3 linked regions of the Homo sapiens genome follow. The protein of the gene in region 1 interacts with the protein of each later gene in a biochemical or structural test. Each region holds a gene or a part of one and is shown in the gene's direction. Other genes may lie near its edges.

Region 1 (3,653 bases):
GGGATGGGACTTGCTCTCAGCCTCCAGGGACAGAGCCCTGACCATGCAATTTTATACAATTGGGGAAGCCTCAGATGGGCAGTCCCAGGCTGGGACGGCAACTCCACGAAATCACCAGGGTCCCACCTCTTCCGTCTCCATCCTGCTGCCGCTGGTGTTTGCTTTCTATGTGAAGACTCCAGCCTTCACTTGTTTCTAGGGAGAGAGAAAGAGGCAAGGGAAAAGGGGAGCTGACAGCAAAGCCCTGCACAACCGATCTGCGGACCAAAACTCCCTCTGCCCTCTGCCCGGGGCTAGAGAGTTTGGAAGCACACTCATTGAGCTGGGCAAACTGCCACCCCAAATAATATTAGGGCTCTGTCACCAAAGAAGAGGAGGAGCTAGGATGAGGTGAGCACCTGGCACCTGCCCAGAACCTCGCTCCCTTCCTGCCACCCACAGCAAGTGATAAAGAGCCCTGTCACTGGCCAAGCAGGGCAGGATGCACCTCTACAGGTTTTTCCCTCTGTGCTCCTGTTCTTTCTGACTTAATAAATGAGCCCATCCTAACATCTGCTACTGTTACAAAAATCATATATACAACACGAATGTGAGTAAGAAAAGCTAAACAGAATTTTTTTTTCTAACAAATATTCTCTCGTAGGTTCCAGAATCTCAGCTTTTACCTGGACAGAGGTTTCAAACTAAAGGTATGTTTTCATAGCAACATAGTTAAAATTTTTTTTCTTTACTATTAGAGCTTCTATAAAGTGATTGTCCTAAATGTTTTTATTTTTTTTTATTGTGGGACATATATAACATAAAAATTTACCCTCTTAACTATTTTTAAGTATACATTTCAGCAGCATTAGGTACATTCACATTGTTGTACAACCAATACCGCCCTCCATCTCCAGAATGCATCTTCTCAAACTCCATACCCATTAAACAATAAGTCCCCATTGCCTCCTCCCCCAGCCGCTGGCAACCTCCGCTCTTTCTGTCTTTATGAATTTCACTACTCTAGGTACCTCCTAGAAGTGGAATCATACAGTAATTGTCCTTTTGTGTTTGGATTATTTCACTTAGCCTGATGTCCTCAAGGTTCATCCATGCTGTAGAAAGTGTTAGAATTTATTTCCTTCTAATAGTGAATAATATTTCCTTGTAAGTATATGCCCTGGCCGGGTGCAGTGGCTCACACCTGTAATCCCAGCACTTTGGGAGGCCAAGTTAGGTAGATCACCTGTGGTCAGGAGTTCGAGACCAGCCTGGTCAACATGGTGAAACCCCGTCTCTACTAAAAACACAAAAAATTAGCCAGGCGTGGTGGTGGGCGCCTGTAATCCCAGCTACTGGGGAGGCTGAGGCAGGAGAATAGCTTGAACCCAGGAGGTGGAGGTTGCAGTGAGCCGAGATTGCACTATTGCACTCCAGTCTGGGCGACAAGAGCGAGACTCCGTCTCAAAAGAGAAAAACCAAAATGCTACATGATGTTTATCCATTCCTCCATCAATAGATGTTTGCATTATTTCCACATCTTGGCTATTTTGAATAATCCTGCTGTGAACATGGGTGTATAATTTCTTAAATATAGAGTTGTATTTATAGTTTTAGTTTTAAGTGATTTGCAAGAACAAATACTGGACACAGTGTATACAGCAAGGTACTCTCTGTGGGCCGTGCAGACCCTGAGCCCACTAGGCAGGAAGCACATGTCCTTCTTCCAGTTGCCCCCTCTTAGTGCTTCCTCTCATCCTTTGTGCCCCATGAGGTTTGTTAAAACGCTTCTGCTGATGGATTCTTACAGGTGTTCTCTTGTGTTCATCTTTAGATCCAGAGGAACAAGGAGACATTGTGGTAGCCTTGTACCCCTATGATGGCATCCACCCGGACGACTTGTCTTTCAAGAAAGGAGAGAAGATGAAAGTCCTGGAGGAGTAAGTGCTCTCAAGCACGCCACGGCTGCTCGTTTCCTCAGGCCACTGAGTCCTGCAGGCTGTCCCCTTGTCTTGCTTCTGGTGCTACAGCCATAGCCCGGCCCCTTTCTTGTAATGGGTATGAGGCCTCCTTGCTACCCACAGGGAGTGGGCAGTGGAAGGAATAGAGCCAAAGGGATTTTCCTTTTAAGTCGGTCTGTGAGCACACTTCAGGGGGTTTCCCTTTGAAGACAGACAGTGGTTTTTCTTTAAAACAATTTTTTTTTTTGAGATGGGATCTCTCTCTGTCATCCAGGCTAGAATGCAGTGGCATGATCATAGCTCACTGCAGCCTTGAACTCCTAGGCTAAAGCAATCCTCTCACCTCAGCCTCCTGAGAAGCTAGGACTACAGGCATGTGCCACCAGGCCTGGCTAATTTTTAAAATTTTTGTAGAGATGGGATCTTGTTATGTTGCCCAGGCTGGTCTTGAACTCCTGCTGTCAAGCAATTCTCCTGCCTTGGCCTCCCAAAGTGCTGGGATTACAGGTGTGAGCCACCACACCCAGCCTGGTTTCTTTCTTTATCCACTCTTGCCACCTTAAGAAATTTGGGTCTGTGTGGCCCATGCATGATACTTGAAATGTCACTTTTCTTTTGTTATATTACTCATGTTTAGACTGGGTTCATGGGCCCAGCCTAGCTTGAGTTCTAAGGGTACTGAGCTACAGCAGCTGTGTTGGGAAATTCTCAACTCAGCAGCTGCCATGCTTTTGTGAGGACGCCTGAGTGTCGTCATCTCCTCAACCCCCTCTTGCTGACTCAGACATGTGGCAGTGTCAGACCATAGGCATGCAGGACAGTGCTCAGAATAAGAAACTCCAGTTGCTTTAATTCTAGCTTGCTTTTCTTACTAATCTTGCATTAAATGTCACTGTGACCTGCCAAATAGGGTTTGAGGGGGAGACTCCCTTATTAAGGACAAGGTGTTCCGTGGTTGAGAGCAATGTTGCATATGGGTTGAACAGGGACTTAAGCCTGATCCTGGCCCTGCCACTTGATAGCTGTATGACCTTGACAAGACCCTTAAACTTTATACCTTGGTTTCTTTACTTATAAAATGGGAATGACAGTACCTAGATCATGGGGTTGATGTGAGCATGATGCATGTGTTTAAACATGACATAAGCAAAGAGGATGCAGAGCTTAGTATTAGTTCTAGTTGCCTTCATGCCTTACAGACAAGGATCCTGTCTGTGTGTGGAATTTATAGAGGAATGCAGTTAAGGCTCAAAGGGACCCATTCCTTCCCCCATTACCAGCTTACCTGCTTGCTTCTTCCAGTGCTCATCCCTGCCTCCTCCCTGGCTCCATGCCTGCCTTTCTGCTGAGGACTCGAGCATGGTGCTGAAGCTCACTTGCTTGGAATTGTCTTATGGTTTTCTTCTTTTCATAGTGTCCATCTCTATGATAACTAGATGTTTGAACAAAGGAGTTTATAATGCATGAACTGTGGACCAGTATTCCCTTGACTCTCATTTCTATAAGGATTTGAAAGCATTTCTTAGCTATCCTGGGGCAAGTTACAAACCTTTTGTTTCTGTGAGATGGGAGCCATTTGTACCAACTCTTCTTTGTGCACCCCTGATCGCAGTGATGCGTGCTTTAGTTGTAAGGCTGTTTTCCTTTGCTTCTGTCTCTAAACATATTTTAATTCCATCACGGAGAGTGAATTTTCCCACTGGATTCTGGGGT
Region 2 (3,653 bases), on another chromosome or scaffold:
TTTTTAATTTCTCCCTTCAACTTTTGGTTTTTCAAAACTAGATCAAAGCAGAATGGAAAGAGAAACCTCATCACTGATATCAAATAAGTGTTCTAATTTTGTTTCCCAATTAAATGGCAATTAAAAAGAAACTAATCAAGAGCTGCTTCAAAGAGAAGAGACTGGAAAGCAGAAGAAATGGAAAGTAAATGAGAGCCTATTTCAGGGACTCGCTGCTCATGGCACAGCAGTTTTGCTGATTTTTCACATTGTTCAACTAATATGCTCACGCTAAAATTCCCCAGCTTTACTAAGTTGGCAGTTAACCCTTTCCCTATAGAGCCCATAGATTTATGAGCCATACATTTAGTAACTTCAGGAGGATGCTTCTTTAACTCTTTCTCTTCAGCTTTTTATCTGAAATCTCTACCCTTCAGGCCTCTCTTCCAATTCCTCAAAGAAGATGTCCTTGTGATTGTTACATTTAAGGGACAAAAATATGGTGTTCTCTATTGAGAGCGCCAAAAATACTAAACCGGAATTCCTCCATAGGCTCAGTATTTGCCTCAAAAATGTCCCAGCACTTTGAGAGGCTGAAGTGCGCAGATCACTTGAGGTCAGGAGTTCGAGACCAGCCGGGCCAACATGGCAAAACCCCATCTCTACTAAAAATACAAAAATTAGCTGGGCGTGGTGGCACACACCTGTAGTCCCAGCTACATGGGAGGCTGAGACAAGAGAATCACTTGAACCCGGGAGGCAGAGGTTGCAGTGAGCCCAGATGGCGCCATTGCACTTCAGTCTGGGCGACAGAGAGAGCCTCCATCTCAAAAAAATAAACAGAACAACAACTTTCTAGAGCTGCTCTCTTGAGAGACAACTGAGGAGTCACTATGGTTAAGTGTTTAGTAAATGTTACTATTATTACTACGTAGTGGGCATTGTGCTAAGCCCTTTACTTGGATTATATCCTCCATGATTTCACTTATGAAGACTTTAGCGATTTTTGTTTGTTTGTTTCTTTTTTTGAGTCTCACTCTGTCGCCCAGGCTGGAGTACAGTGGCACGATCTTAGCTCACTACAACCTCTGCCTTACAGGTTCAAGCAATTCTTGTGTCTTAACCTCCCAAATAGCTGGGATCACAGGTGTGCACCACCATTCCCGGCTAATTTCTGTATTTTTAATAGAGACACGGTTTTGCCATGTTGGTCAGGCTGGTCTCGAACTCCTGGCCTCAAGCAGTCCACCTGCCTTGGCCTCCCAAAGTGCTGGGATTATTACAGGCGTGAGCCACCATGCCTGGACTTTAGTTTTTTGTTTTTTTGGGTTTTTTTGAGACAGAGTCTCACTCTGTCGCCCAGGCTGGAGTGCAGTGGCGCGATCTCGGCTCACTGCAACCTCTGCCACCCAGGTTCAAGCGACTCTCCTGCGTCAGCCTCCTAAGTAGCTGGGATTACAGGTGCCTGCCACTGTGCCTAACTAACTTTTGTAGTTTTAGTAGAGACGGGGTTTCACCATCTTGGCCAGGCTGGTCTTGAACTCCTGACCTCGTGATCCATCCTCCTTGTCCTCCCAAAGTGCTGGGATTACAGGCGTGAGCCACCATGCCTGGCCAGACTTTATTTTTTATTATTTATTTATTTATTTATTTATTTATTTATTTTTGAGACAGAGTCTCGCTCTGTTGCCCAGGCTGGAGTGCAGTGGCGTGATCTTGGCTCACCACAACCTCCACCTCCCAGGTTCCAGTGATTCTCCTGCCTCAGCCTCCTGGATAGCTGGGACTACAGGCACATGCCACCACGCCCAGCTGATTTTTGTATTTTTAGTAGAGATGGGGTTTCACCATCTTGGCCAGGCTGGTCTTGGAACTCCTAATCTCGTGATCTGCCCACCTCAGCCTCCCAAAGTGCTGGGATTACAGGCATGAGCCACCACTGCGCCCAGCTAGACTTTAGTTTTTATAGTGAGGCTTGAGATTTGCATCTCCACTGGTCTCTTTGACATCTCAGAGGATCCATTCTGAACTTGCTAGGTTTCTTTCCCCTGCTGAATTGAGTTCTGCATCTTGAGTCTGCAGCAGTGTGAATCCTATCTTTGGCTCCATTTAACAGCCTATGGACGTTCCCAAACTTGGGACCCAGTTTGTCTCTTCATGATAGACAAATATTATTTTCAGAAGTCATTCTAATCGCACCACTGCACTCCAGCCTGGCAACAGTGAGACTCCATCTCAAAAAAAAAAAAAAAAGTCATTCTAGTAGGTGAGATTTCTGCCAGCATTGAGCCACTGCTCAACATATTCTTGATAATGGTCTCTGAACAGCATTTGATTTTACCTTGGAGTTGCAAAGTCAAAGTCTAACTCGCCAAACAAACTCAGTGTGGAATATACACATTTGTCTCATTCCGGTTTTAAGGAGTTTAGTATACCAGAGCTTTTGTGACCTCTAAAAAGCAGTTATCGTCCATGACAAGAATTGGCTCGTTCACCCTCAGTACTCTGGCTTACTATCCCAGGGAGGGCCGAGGGTGGCAGCAAAAGTGGTCTTTTGTAATCCCTTTTTATAACCTGCTGTTCTCTTCACAGACCTCCCAGGGTACCTTTTTTTGTGTGTGTGTGTGTGAGATGGAGTCTCACTCTCACCCAGGCTGGAGTGCAGTGGCGTAATCTCGGCTCACTGCAACCTCTGCCTCCTGGGTTCAAACTATTCTCTTGCCTCAGCCTCTCAAGTAGCTGGGATTACAGGCACCCGCCACCATGCCTAGCTAATTTTTATTTTTTATTTTTGAGACAGAGTCTCGCTCTGTCACCCAGGCTGGAGTACAGTGGCGCGGTCTTGGCTCACTGCAAGCTGCGTCTCCCGGGCTCACGCCATTCTCCTGCCTCAGCCTCCTGGGTAGCTGGGACTGTAGTCGCCCGTCACCACGCCCGGCTAATTTTTTGTATTTTTAGTAGAGACGGGGTTTCACCGTATTAGCCAGGATGGTCTCGATCTCCTGACCTCATGATCCGCCCACCTCGGCCTCCCTAAGAGCTGGAATTACAGGCGTGAGCCACCGCGCCTGGCCAATTTTTGTAATTTTTAGTAGAGAAGGGTTTTGCTATGTTGGCCAGGCTTGTCTCGAGCTCCAGACCTTAGGTGATCTGCCCGCCTTGGCCTCCCAAAGTGCTGGGATTACAGGCATGAGCCACTGTGCCCAGCCCCAGGGTACCTTGATGGCAGTACTAAAGTGTTTTTATTTTTCCCATCATTTGGGATTCACAAGCAGTTTTTGATATAACTAATTGGTGGGAATGTGCGGAGTTGGGGGTATTGCACTGAGTGATCCTTAGCCGCAGAAGTACAGAGACTAGACAGCTGATACTGATTCATGCCATGTCATTTCCTTCTGGGCATCTTTGCCATTTCATTCACCTCTCTTTGGTCTTTCTGAGTACTAATAGGATTATTAGTGAACTTACCATACTTCAAGAGTTAATTGATTTGCAAAAGGATTTCCTGATGTCTAAAAGTAGAATCAAAAGGATATTAGAGGTTAGAGTTTATTTTAATAAGTTTCTCTGGAAAATTTGAATTTCTGCCCAAAAAATTCATTTTTTATTTGAGACAAGGTTTCACTCTGTCACCCAGATCGTAGTGCCATGGTGCAGTCCTCCTACTTCAGCCT
Region 3 (3,653 bases), on another chromosome or scaffold:
TTCACCTTAGAAAACAAGAATTCAATGTGTTCTTGCTAAACTTCAGTGACAGGAACAAATTAATAAAGTTCAGATGTGATCAATTAAGTCCAATGATGTCAGTGAAGAAATGAGACACAGAAAGACAAAATTTTTTCAAGATGTGACAAGGTTACACTCACAATGTTATTATAATGAGTGAGGAGAAGAATCTGAAAAGTAAACCAAAACCTAATTGCATAAATTTGTGTAAAAAATTCCCCAAGTATAATGAGGAGCTCTTGAAGAGTTTTTAATGAGGGATGGCACATGATTAGATTTTGTGTTAGAAGATCACATGAGCTGCTCTTGATACAATTAATTGGAAAAGGGCAGCAATGGAAGTTAGTGAACAATTAGGGGTTTGCAATGAGTAAAAATACAGGGAGAAGTGGACAGATTTATTAAGAACTATTACTTACATACCTTTTGTGATATAGTAGATTTGGAGTCTGAAGGGGACAAAAATGTGAAGAATGACACCAAGGGTTGTGGTCTGTAAACCTAAGAGAATCAAGAATGTGTCATTTACTCCATTGGAAAGGAGTGAAGGAACAAGAGGACACCGGGAGGGCATGAGAGAATGTCATTTCAATTTCAGATCTGTTACATTTGAGGAGCATGAGAAATAGTCACATTAAGATGTCAAGTAAGCAGTTCGATTTTAGGATCTGGATATCAGAAAGGCAGTTCAGACTGGAGATATAAAATTAAGAAAAACATTGTATTTAAAACTACAACAATGAATAGGATAACATAGATAAGGTGACTCAGGATAGAGACCTGTGGAAAACAAACATTTCAGTGTTGGTAGAGAAGGAGGAGTTGCTCAATATGACTGAGGAGAGGCTAAAAAGAAGGAAAACGAAGATACAGTGAGAAGAATTCAAAAATAGAATGTTTCAGGAAGGTAAGAATGGTGAACTGGCCCAAATTCTTTTGATAGGTCAGGCAAATTGAAGCCTGAAATTTAGCCAATGGATTTGGCATCATGAAACTTACAGATGACCTTAGAGAAGTAAGTAGCTTTAGTAAAGAGGATGAGAGCTGAATGGGAATGAGTGGAAGAAGGTAAGGTGATGGAGGCCATGGAGACGCCCTTTAGAAATATGGCTGTCTGATAAGCAGCTGAAGATGTGGCATCAAGGAAAGGATTTTACTTTCATTGTTGCTTTAAGATCAGTGTCACGGCAGCAATTTAATTGTTCTCAAAAGCCGATGGCGTCACACCAAAGGGGGGTTTTCTGCTATGAAAACTTATAGAGAACAGCTCCATGAATTCCATTAGTAATACATTTTAATGTGTAGATTTTCTTATGTGTTTAAGAATTTCTGTCTCTTCAAATGGTATTTCTAGTTCTAGATCCTTGAGGAATCGCCATACTATCTTCCACAATGGTTGGACTAGTTTACAGTCCCACCAACAGTGTAAAAGTGTTCCTATTTCTCCATATCCTCTCCAGCATCTGTTGTTTCCTGACTTTTTAGTGATTGCTATTCTAACTGGTGTGAGATGGTATCTCACTGTGGTTTTGATTTGTATTTCTCTGATGGCCAATGATGATGAGCATTTTTTCATGTGTCTGTTGGCTGCATAAATGTATTCTTTTGAGAAGTGTGTGTTCATATCCTTTGCCCACTTTTTGATGGGGTTGTTTGATTTTTTCTTGTAAATTTGTGTAAGTTCTTTGTAGATTCTGGATATTAGCCCTTTGTCAGATGGGTAGATTGTAAAACTTTTCTCCCATTCTGTAGGTTGCCTGTTCACTCTGATGGTAGTTTCTTTTGCTGTGCAGAAGCTCTTTAGTTTAATTAGATCCCATTTGTCAATTTTGGCTTTTGTTGCCATTGCTTTTGGTGTTTTAGTCATGAAGTCCTTGCCCATGCCTATGTCCTGAATGGTATTGCCTAGGTTTTCTTCTCAGGTTTTTACGGTTTTAGGTCTAACATTTAAGTCTTTAATCCATCTTGAATTAATTTTTGTGTAAGGTGTAAGGAAGGGATCCAGTTTCAGCTCTCTATATATGGCTAGCCAGTTTTCCCAGCACCATTTATTAAATAGGGAATCCTTTCCCCATTTCTTGTTTTTGTCAGGTTTGTCAAAGATGAGATGGTTATAGATGTGTGGTATTATTTCTGAGGGCTCTGTTCTGTTCCATTGGTCTATATCTCTGTTTTGGTACCAGTACCATACTGTTTTGGTTACTGTAGCCTTGTAGTATAGTTTGAAGTCAGGTAGCATGATGCCTCCAATTTTGTTCTTTTGGCTTAGGATTGTCTTGGCAATGCAGGCTCTGGGTATATACCCAAAGGATTATAAATCATGCTGCTATAAAGACACATGCACACGTATGTTTATTGTGGCACTATTCACAATAGCAAAGACTTGGAACCAACCCAAATGTCCATTAATGACAGACCGGATTAAGAAAATTTGGTGGCCGGGCCTGGTGGCTCATGCCTGTAATCCCAGCACTTTGGGAGGCCAAGGTGGGCGGATCACGAGGTCAGGAGATCGAGGCCATCCTGGCTAACACGGTGAAACCCCATCTCTACTAAAAACACAAAAAATTAGCCGGGCGTGCTGGTGGGTGCCTGTAGTCCCAGCTACTTGGGAGGCTGAGGCAGGAGAATGGCATGAACCTGGGAGGCGGAGCTTGCAGTGAGCTGAGATCGCACCACTGCACTCCAGCCTGGGTGACAGAGTGAGATTCCATCTCAAAAATAAGTAAATAAATAAATAAAATAAAATAAGGAAAATGTTGCACGTATACACCATGGAATAATACTATGCAGCCATGAAAAGGATGAGTTCATGTCCTTTGTAGGGACATGGATGAAGCTGGAAACAATCATTCTGAGCAAACTATCACAAGGACAGAAAACTAAACACTGCATGTCCTCACTCATAGGTGGGAATTGAGCAATGAGAATACTTGGACGCAGGATGCGGAACATCACACACCAGGGTTTGTTGTTGGGTGGGGGGAGGGGGGAGGGATAGCATTAGGAGATATATCTAATGTAAATGACAAGTTAATGGGTGCAGCACACCAACATGGCACATGTATACATATGTAACAAACCTGCATGTTGTGCACATGTACCCTAGAACTTGAAGTATAATTTAAAAAAAAAAAGAAAAGAAAAAGAATTTCTGTCTCGTATTTTTCATTCCTTCTTCTATGTTTCTGGAGCTCCTCCTTCTCTTCTTCCCATTCCTCTCCTCTTTCCTTTTTTCTTTTTTTGTTTTTTTGGTATTGATCTTAATGGAGAATAAATAGTTGACACTTCTTTCTGTGAAAGCCTTGGTACAGTGTTGAATTATTCCTTAGCTTTACTTTCTATATATCATCCCTTCCTTTTTATCCATATTGGAATCCATTCATTCTCGTTAAAATCCTGTTTTTGCATTTGCTTAGTAGTTACTGTCACAACTACTTGATAAAGCTCTACTCCTGAATAAATCTTTCTGGCTCTATTCTTCCTGTGTGAATCTAAGAGACTGACTATTGCTAGATAAAAACACATTCAAACAGGTTGGTAATATAAATTTAGGCAATTCTTGTTACACGTTACTTGTTTCAGACAAGATTTGTTTTTAAATTTTTCAAATTTTTTGAGATGGTTTCTCG

The links.
Region 2: of the proteins of LYN (region 1) and NMT1, one has a biochemical effect on the other in vitro, tested with the Homo sapiens proteins (one study listed by BioGRID).
Region 3: the proteins of LYN (region 1) and BANK1 form a complex in vitro, tested with the Homo sapiens proteins (one study listed by BioGRID).

Annotation. Positions count from the first base shown.
Region 1 is NC_000008.11:55,945,805-55,949,457, forward strand, and holds part of LYN (tyrosine-protein kinase Lyn), read left to right. Parts: intron 1-643; coding exon 644-689; intron 690-1,813; coding exon 1,814-1,919; intron 1,920-3,653. UniProt on the Homo sapiens protein: Non-receptor tyrosine-protein kinase that transmits signals from cell surface receptors and plays an important role in the regulation of innate and adaptive immune responses, hematopoiesis, responses to growth factors and cytokines, integrin signaling, but also responses to DNA damage and genotoxic agents.
Region 2 is NC_000017.11:45,067,664-45,071,316, forward strand, and holds part of NMT1 (glycylpeptide N-tetradecanoyltransferase 1), read left to right. Parts: intron 1-3,653.
Region 3 is NC_000004.12:101,797,136-101,800,788, forward strand, and holds part of BANK1 (B-cell scaffold protein with ankyrin repeats), read left to right. Parts: intron 1-3,653. UniProt on the Homo sapiens protein: Involved in B-cell receptor (BCR)-induced Ca(2+) mobilization from intracellular stores. Promotes Lyn-mediated phosphorylation of IP3 receptors 1 and 2.